Linked DNA regions of Homo sapiens: region 1 is linked to region 2. The links come from fine-mapping of genetic effects on gene expression. A gene starts in region 2. The other region holds a variant in brackets. All regions are shown on one strand. Distances are between the middles of the regions.

Region 1 (4,524 bases), 960 kb after region 2:
TTATGAAGCTTAGTTTGGCTAGATATGAAATTCTCGGTTGAAAATTCTTTTCTTTAAGAATGTTGAATATTGGCCCCCACTCTCTTCTGGCTTGTAGAGTTTCTTCCGAGAGATCTGCTGTTAGTCTGATGGGCTTCCCTTTGTGGCTAACCCGACCTTTCTCTCTGGCTGCCCTTATCATTTTTTCCTTCATTTCAACTTTGGTGAATCTGACAATTATGTGTTTTGGAGTTGCTCTTCTCGAGGAGTGTTTTTGTGGCATTCTCTGTATTTCCTGAATCTGAATGTTGGCCTGCCTTGCTAGATTGGGGAAGTTCTCCTGGATAATATCCTGCAGAGTGTTTTCCAACTTGGTTCCATTCTCCCCATCACTTTCAAGTACACCAATCAGACGTAGATTTGGTCTTTTCACATAGTCCCATATTTCTTGGAGGCTTTGTTCATTTCTTTTTATTCTTTTTTTCTCTAAACTTCCCTTCTCACTTCATTTCATTCATTTCATCTTCCATCACTGATACCCTTTCTTCCAGTTGATTGCATCAGCTCCTGAGGCTTCTGCATTCTTCACGTAGTTCTCAAGCCTTGGCTTTCAGCTCCGTCAGCTCCTTTAAGCACTTCTCTATATTGGTTATTCTAATTATACATTCATCTAAATTTTTTTCAAAGTTTTTAACTTGTTTGCCTTTGGTTTGAATTTCCTCCTGTAGCTTGGAGTAGTTTGATCATCTGAAGCCTTCTTCTCTCAACTCATCAAAGTCATTCACCATCCAGCTTTGTTCTATTGCCGGTGAGGAGCTGTGCTCCTTTGGAGGAGGAGAGGCACTCTGCGTTTTAGAGTTTCCAGTTTTTCTGCTCTGTTTTTTCCCCATCTTTGTGGTTTTATCTACTTTTGGTCTTTGATGATGGTGATGTACAGATTGGTTTTTGGTGTGGATGTCCTTTCTGTTTGTTAGTTTTCCTTCTAACAGACAGGACCCTCAGCTGCATGTCTGTTGGAGTTTGCGGAGGTCCACTCCAGACCCTGTTTGCCTGGGTATCAGCAGCGGTGGCTGCAGAACTGCGGATTTTAGTGAACCGCGAATGCTGCTGTCTGATTGTTCCTCTGGAAGTTTTGTCTCAGAGGACTACCTGGCTGTGTGAGGTGTCAGTCTGCCCCTACTGGGGGGTGCCTCCCAGTTAGGCTGCTCGGGGGTCAGGGGTCAGGGACCCACTTGAGGAGGCAGTCTGCCCATTCTCAGATCTCCAGCTGTGTGCTGGGAGAACCACTGCTCTCTTCAAAGCTGTCAGACAGGGAAATTTAAGTCTGCAGAGGTTACTGCTGTCTTTTTGTTTGTCTGTGCCCTGTCCCCAGAGGTGGAGCCTACAGAGGCAGGCAGGCCTCCTTGAGCTGTGGTGGGCTCCACCCAGTTCGAGCTTCCTGGCTGCTTTGTTTACCTAAGCAAGCCTGGGCAATGGCGGGCGCCCCTCCCCCAGCCTCACTGCTGCCTTGCAGTTTGATCTCAGACTGCTGTGCTGGCAATCAGTGAGACTCCATGTGGGTAGGACCCTCTGAGCCAGGTGCGGGATATAATCTCCTGGTGCACCGTTTTTTTAAGCCCATTGGAAAAGCGCAGTATTCGGGTGGGAGTGACCCGAATTTCCAGGTGCCGTCTGTCACCCCTTTCTTTGACTAGGAAAGGGAACTCCCTGACCCCTCACACTTCCCGAGTGAGGCAGTGCCTCACCCTGCTTTGGCTCACGCACGATGCACTGCACCCACTGTCCTGTGCCCACTGTCTGGCACTCCCTAGTGAGATGAACCTGGTACCTCAGATGGAAATGCAGAAATCACCCGTCTTCTGCATCACTCATGCTGGGAGCTGTAGACTCAAGCTGTTGCTATTTGGCCATCTTGGCTGCCTTCTCTAAATTATTTTTTCCTTGCAAATTGATGTGGATGTTCTGCTGCTAAGGAATTCATCTTCAACATTGTCTCATCTCTTTTAAAAATGCATTATCCATTTGTAAACTACTAATTTCTCTGGAGCATTGTCCCCATAAACTTTTTGTAAAGTCTCAATGATTTCACCATTCTTCCACCTAAGTTTCACCATAAATTTGATGTTTGTTCTTGCTTCTATTTCAGCAGAATTTGTGTTCCTTGGATAACAGCTTTTTTCACACAAACATCTTATCCTTCTTAGTGCTTCAAAATAGATCCTGTTCAGCCATGTTATAAAAAATTAGTACAGATTTATTTTGGCACAAAAATTTGAACTCTATGCATAGTTTACTCATAATATGCATTTTCATGAATTTTTTGAAGACTCTTTCTGTATACTTGGGCATGTTTCTGGAGTCATTA[C/T]GGTGTGTTAATGCAAACAAATTATAATGCATTTGCTATTACTGTTTTGTTGATTGTAGTTTTATAAAAAGTCCAGCATGTGCTTTACCGTATATGAGTCAGCCTGATCGTCACTCCATGATGCTCTTTTTCCTGAATCATCTTGGCTGTTAGTGATTTTCAGATGAATTTGAAACTAGTTGTGCAACTTCTTCCCAAAAGCAAATCATTATTTCATGGAATCACTTAAACTTATAAGGTATTTTGGAATTACTGATACATGTAGTACCATAATTATAAATGGCATCTGTCTGCACATTATATTTTTGGCTAGTTTTGCAGATATAAAGGCATAATCTTGATTCCCCCTGCCCATTTTGCTCTTCTTTGGATCAGGTCTTGGGAATCTCTTAAAACTGTGTTACTTTCATGCAAGTATCTTCCTGCTTTATGTTTCTTGAATCTTTTCTGCTGAGAAATAGAAATGCAAACAAAAACAAGATTAAGAAACAAAAAATAAATAAGATATAGATTAAGCATATATATACTGTGTGCCTGAGGACAAGCTGCCCTCTACCCACCAGCATTGTAATCCAAGATTCTCTAGATATTGATACTATTGTGTTGGAAAAGGCCCTGATACCTGGGCATTCCTGGGAAGGCAGTGTTGAATATTGATACTCTCACCATTGTCTCTTTGGATCTCAGACCAATGACATCTTTAGTAAATCAAAGCGAGAATTGAAAATTTTAAAGCTATTGTCTTATTTTTCATCATTTAAAATCCTGCTTTCTTTTCTTAATTTTGTCTCCTCAAAATTTCTGTTGCCCATGGCAACAAATTTGCCTAAATCTCAGAGGCATCCCAACAAGATCCATTTCCTTCAGATACATCGTTATTTTTGCAAAGGAGATTTTGCTCTATGCTGTAGTCCCATGATTCTTTGACTGAAGCAATAATTAGGTATGAGGCAATCTCATTCCCTTTCCCACCACATAACAGGCACTCATTGAGCCAATGTGTGATAAAACCAGGGGATGAGAATGAGGCATTTGAGTCTTAGCAGATTTGTGAGAAAACAACAGGAGTGTGTGTTTCCCACAAGGGCAGAAAGTATGTGCCACTCATAATAGGCTAATTTGGATCTTTTCACCACTGAACCTTCTGGTGTGAAATGGTCTGTGTGACATAGAGGGCCTCAAGAGTCTGACTCCATTGTGGATAGGGTAGGCTGCTACTGAACTAAAGGACATGGTGACAAATAGAAAAGTCCTAGGTCTGAGCCTACATGAAGGACAGAGGGCCCCAAATGGTCGTTGACCTTTCTCATTAAACAGCTACAGCACATAGCCACTCCCCACTCAAGTGACAGCTAGAGGGTTTACTCACTCATTTTCCACATCCTGGATGGTGTTAGGAAGAGGTAGATCCCTGGTTTCTGGAAGGAGGAGGATAACAGGGACAGCAAGGATGGGGAAGACTCCATAGGAAATCCAGGGTAGGTGGGGAGAATACGCCATTAAGGTCATCAACAGAGGAGCCAGTGCTGCCCCAGTCCTACCGGACACTGCATTGATTCCTGCAACTGTTGACCTTAGAGTGCAAATAACAATACAAAAAATCTTGTATGAATCTGTACATGTCAGCTCTTTATCATCATTATTTCTTTATGGGGACCAGTACAACAGAGTTACTAAACACATGGGCTTTGACAGCAAGCCCTTAATTGTGACATTTACCTCTGTTGGTTTCTACCTATTTGATAGTATAATGTTGGTAACTGCTCTTAACCTTAGTTTCATAATTACTAAAATAGAGATACCCATAGCATTAATTAACCTGTAGCAATAACCCGCAGCTTTGATAATTTGATAATAATAGCACATATATGGCTCTCAGTTACTCTGTTCATTTCTATTACAGTTAATTCATCTGGCACCTAAACAGTGTCAGTCTTTCATTCACAATGAATATCAATAAATTCAGAAATTTGTGTTTTGAAACCAGATGGTCTTTAGCTCTTGTACCTCAATATGGTGGGGACGAGCTCGTTGTGGTGGACAGAAGCACTGTTGCTAGCAGCAGAAACACTACCAATTCCCAAAGTTGCTAAAACCACACGCAGGATCTGCATTTCTAGAGAGAACAGTGAGAATCAGGAAATCTTGCCTGAAGAAACTTTTCAACCCCCAAATAATTG
Region 2 (4,000 bases):
GAATTAATAAACAGAATGATTAACGATTGGGTAACATATCCTTTTATGATTCAGCTGATTTCCAATTATTTACATTCTTCAAAGAATAACTCAGAAATGTTTAGTTAATTTGCTCACAAATTATTTACTCACATATGATGGAGTCAGTTGGTAAACTGAGTAAAATAACAAAGGCAAAAACAGAATTGATAAAGAGAGGGAAGAAAGGGAGAGGAAAAATACTACAGACGACCTGGGAACAGGGTAAACTATCTGTTGGTAGCTGACCGTGGATGTACAAATCTCTTCAAGATTGAACTGCCTTATTTTACAGGTAACAGCAACCTTGACTCACAGAGTAAAGTGACTTTGTCTAAAGCAGTTTCTCAACAGCAGCAATTCTGGTATCTGGGGCCGGGTAATTCCTTGCTGTGGGGACTGTCTTATGCACTAGATGGCGTTCAGCAGCATCCCTGGCCTTTACCCACCAAATACCACTAACCCCTTCTCCCAAACCCAAATGAATTCACACACTGCCAAATGTGGGGGGCGGAGGTGGGATAAAACCTCCTCTGCATGAGAACCACTTCTCTCAAGAAACGTCCAGTACCAGGGTAGGTGACCAAGGATTCTGTCGCCCAAGAGATGACAGAAGGCTCTAGATAAACGCACACTCCGTTGCCATTCACAAGGCGTTTTGTTTTTACTTCTCAAAAGCGGCAGAGATTTTTTTTTTGAGACGGAGTTTTTTGCTTTTTGTGGCCCAGGCTGGAGTGCAATGGCGCGATCTCGGCCCACTGCAACCTCTGCCTCCCGGGTTCAAGCGATTCTCCTGTCTCAGCCTCCCGAGTCGCTGGGATTACAGGTGCAAGCCACCACGCCCGGCTAATTTTTTTTTGTATTTTAGTAGAGACAGGGTTCCACTGTGTTGCCCAGGCTGGTCTCGAACTCCTGAGCTCAGGCAATCCACCCGCCTCGGCCTCCCAAAGTGCTAGGATTGCAGGCGTGAGCCACCGCGCCCGGCCAGAGATTCTTTTTTTTTTTTTTTTTTTTTTTTGAGACGGAGTCTCGCTCTGTCGCCCAGGCTGGAGTGCAGTGGCGGGATCTCGCCGGCCAGAGATTCTTTATAGGACATATTAGTCCTTGTCTTTCCCCCCCCGCCTCCATATTGGAAAGATGAACTAATTGAAATATGACTTAGTAAAAACATTGTGCCAACTTGAAACCTTGATTTAGTAAAACATCTCAATGTTTAGATCCTTTGTCCAATGGTAGTATTTATCAGATGTATTCAGCTTGCTCAGAAAACCAAAAGGGCATTACAACCACAAAAGCAAAGAAAAATAAGAAAACGTCCCATGTTTGGATCTTGTTCTACTTGTAAAGATTAAATTGAAATGATTAGGCTTTTCGATTCATGAGCCAAATACCGTAACACCCTGGCCTTTGATGGGTTTGGATTTTTAACATTACTCCTGAGATTTCAGGAAGTGGGGTTACAGTTACACTCCTTATAGCTGCTAAGTGTATTAAGTTGAATGTAAGGATGCATAATATTGTTTGAATTGAGCCCCACTACCAATTCTTTAAAAAATGGCATGAATTCCTATACGTAAATGATTTGGTGGAACTATTCCATCATAATTTCTAAATTGTTTATATACCAAGGTAGCCTTAATTTGTATATGTTTCAGTACAATGAAATTTTACTCCCTCTGGGATGCTGTTTGGTTTGTATTTTGAGGAATGTTTTTCTCATGGGAAGAGGAACCTATGACTTCTGTACCTAGATAATTTGTTACATTAAAAAGCTGGTCTTTCAGCAATGTAAGTATATACATACATGTTTTTATGAGGAAAAAAAAGCAGCAGAGATCAGAAGACTGCCACCGTGCTTGGAGAAGAAAGAAAGCCGCGCGTGGCCTTCGCAGTGCTCGCCGGGACTCGTAGTTCCAGGTCTGCGGGCTCCTCCCAGGCGGGGATCTACTTCCTCTCTCGGCCGCGGCCGCAGCACCCGGAAGCTGAGGGGGCTTAAAGTCTTTCGCTTCCTTTCCCCGCCTCTTAGTCCCGCAGATTGCTAGTGGATATGGCCAATAGGAGGGCTGACTGGTACTTCCTGTTATTTGATTGGCTTAAAATTTTGCAACCGCCCGGACAAACTTGCCGAGGATTGGCTGAGCCTTCAGTTTTGAAAATCATAGTTTTCGCCCGCGCTGCGCCGCCTGGTTGCTCCTCCCGTGCGGTGAGTCCCGAAGGCCCGGAGCCAAGTGGGTCTGGGCAAGCGGGGCCTTACCTAGGGATACCACCGGACTTGGATCGGAGCAGCCTTCAGGGGACGTGGCGCAGTCGAGTGAGTGCGCGTGGGCGTGGGGATTGGGGGGTGGTTCGCGATTTTTTCCCCGGTCCTCTGCTCCGTCCCTGTCGACTCCGGACCAGGGTCGTGACTCCCCACCCCAGCCCCTGGCTACCTGGGCATATGAGGGTCACCTCTTCCAAGTGGCGAGGTCGCCTGCCTTGGTTCTCGGGCCCGAGATGCCTCCCACCCTTTCCACCTAGGCCCTCAGCTTCCTAGAGCATAGCCCCGTTCCCTCCGCTCCCGGCTGCTTGGCACCTTGTGCCTGTGAGGATTAGTGTTGACTTGGACGCGCAGGAAGCCCGAAACCAACCCGGTTGTTTGGCGGAATGATGCCAGATGGCATTTCTGTGCAGTTAAACCCCTCTCTCAACGCCCCCGCCCCCAGCTGAGCAGCATTTTAAACTGACCATTTCCGGAGGCTGGGCCGCCCCTTGTCACTCCCCAAGCCTGTTCGCTGTCAGCGGTTCAGTCTCATTCAGCTAACATGGGTTGCTCGCGGGGTTGCCCAGAGCCAAGACTGGGCACCTGCCTTTCAGAAGTTGATATCTAGAAGGCGGTATAGCCAGTGGTTAAGGGCACGGTTTAAAGGCGGTATAGCCCGTGGTTAAGGGCACGGTTCTATTTATGCCCCTGATTTACCGGCTGATTTTGACTTCTCTTTGCCTCAATTTCCTCATCTGCCCATGCGTATCCTCAAGGTTGTGGTGAGAATTAAATGAGATGATGTCTGACTCGGGCATGGAGTATGACTCAGTAAATGGGAGCAGCTGCTATGCGCTTTCTGCACAGAGGTGTGGTAGGCGCCCAACTTACAGCACCCTGAAAAGGACAGGAGTCATAGAGGAGGACGATGGGGCCTTCAGTCTGGTGTATGGTGTGGAAGAAGTGTTGGAGAGGAGGAAGACTGGAGAGTGTCTTCCTCGGTGAGGTGTTGAGTGCTCTTTATCTGTGTGCAGGTGCTTACATGGGTTGAAGAAGAGATTTTTGCTGCTCTTCCAGGAGCCTGATTCTTGGTACACTGATTCCTTCTTTTTCAGGGTCACCTCTGTTTTAACTTACGGTAACCCTTTTTAAATCGTTGCGCTAAGGTCTGCTAGAAGCAAACCTCCCCGTGAAAGAAGTCCAATTGCTTTCATGGACTTTGTGAAAGAAGCTCTCATCCACGTTGCCCATTTGAACAAATACTTTTTAAAAAGTTAGCCAGTTGTTGCTTTTCTCTGCAAACCTTTGGCTTCCTTAAACAGTTTTCTCTTTTCTGGCCTGAGGTCCTGCGCTTTGCCAGGGCTGTGGTCTGGGTGCAGAAGGGTTAGGGGAAGGTGAGGGATGACAGTGAAAAGGGCTTGCCCATGATTGGCTGGCTGCAGAGCCGAGGTTTCAGCCCAAAGCCTGTACGATCCTGCCCATTTGGCCCTGCCCTGATTATTGCTGCCCTTGGCATCTGGGAACAGGGGTTTTGAACATGTGTTGGTCAGTTCTAACCTGTGCAGATTAAGTTTATTTGGTGCCCTTTGTGTGGTGGGATGAGCACCTATAGGATGTTTATTTCTAGGTGTAGAGTTGATGGGTGGATTAATTCATTTAACAAATAGTCCTTGTTGCCAGGCACTGCTGTGCTCTGGGCATTCAACGATGAGCAAGACAGACAGGGGTTTGCCCTCAGAGAGC

The links. PIP is the estimated chance that this variant, and not a neighbour inherited with it, causes the effect.
Region 1: its variant is the best candidate, but not a certain one, in a credible set for the expression of INCENP in left ventricle (GTEx, PIP 0.58).

Annotation. Positions count from the first base shown.
Region 1 is chr11:63,077,207-63,081,730 of GRCh38, forward strand. It overlaps SLC22A24 (solute carrier family 22 member 24), which reads right to left. Exons shown (of 10, transcript NM_001136506.2): 8 at 4,352-4,460; 9 at 3,714-3,917; 10 at 2,734-2,794. The coding sequence ends at 2,734. Among named protein-coding and RNA genes, the nearest start is that of SLC22A8, 64 kb to the left of the region's middle. The variant C/T (reference allele first, on the strand shown) is at 2,345.
Region 2 is chr11:62,121,835-62,125,834 of GRCh38, forward strand. INCENP (inner centromere protein) reads left to right here and starts at 2,177. Exons shown (of 19, transcript NM_001040694.2): 1 at 2,177-2,329. LOC124902681 (a long non-coding RNA gene) reads right to left here and starts at 1,877. Exons shown (of 2, transcript XR_007062697.1): 1 at 1,823-1,877. RefSeq lists enhancers at 1,788-1,877, 2,408-2,477, 2,467-3,048.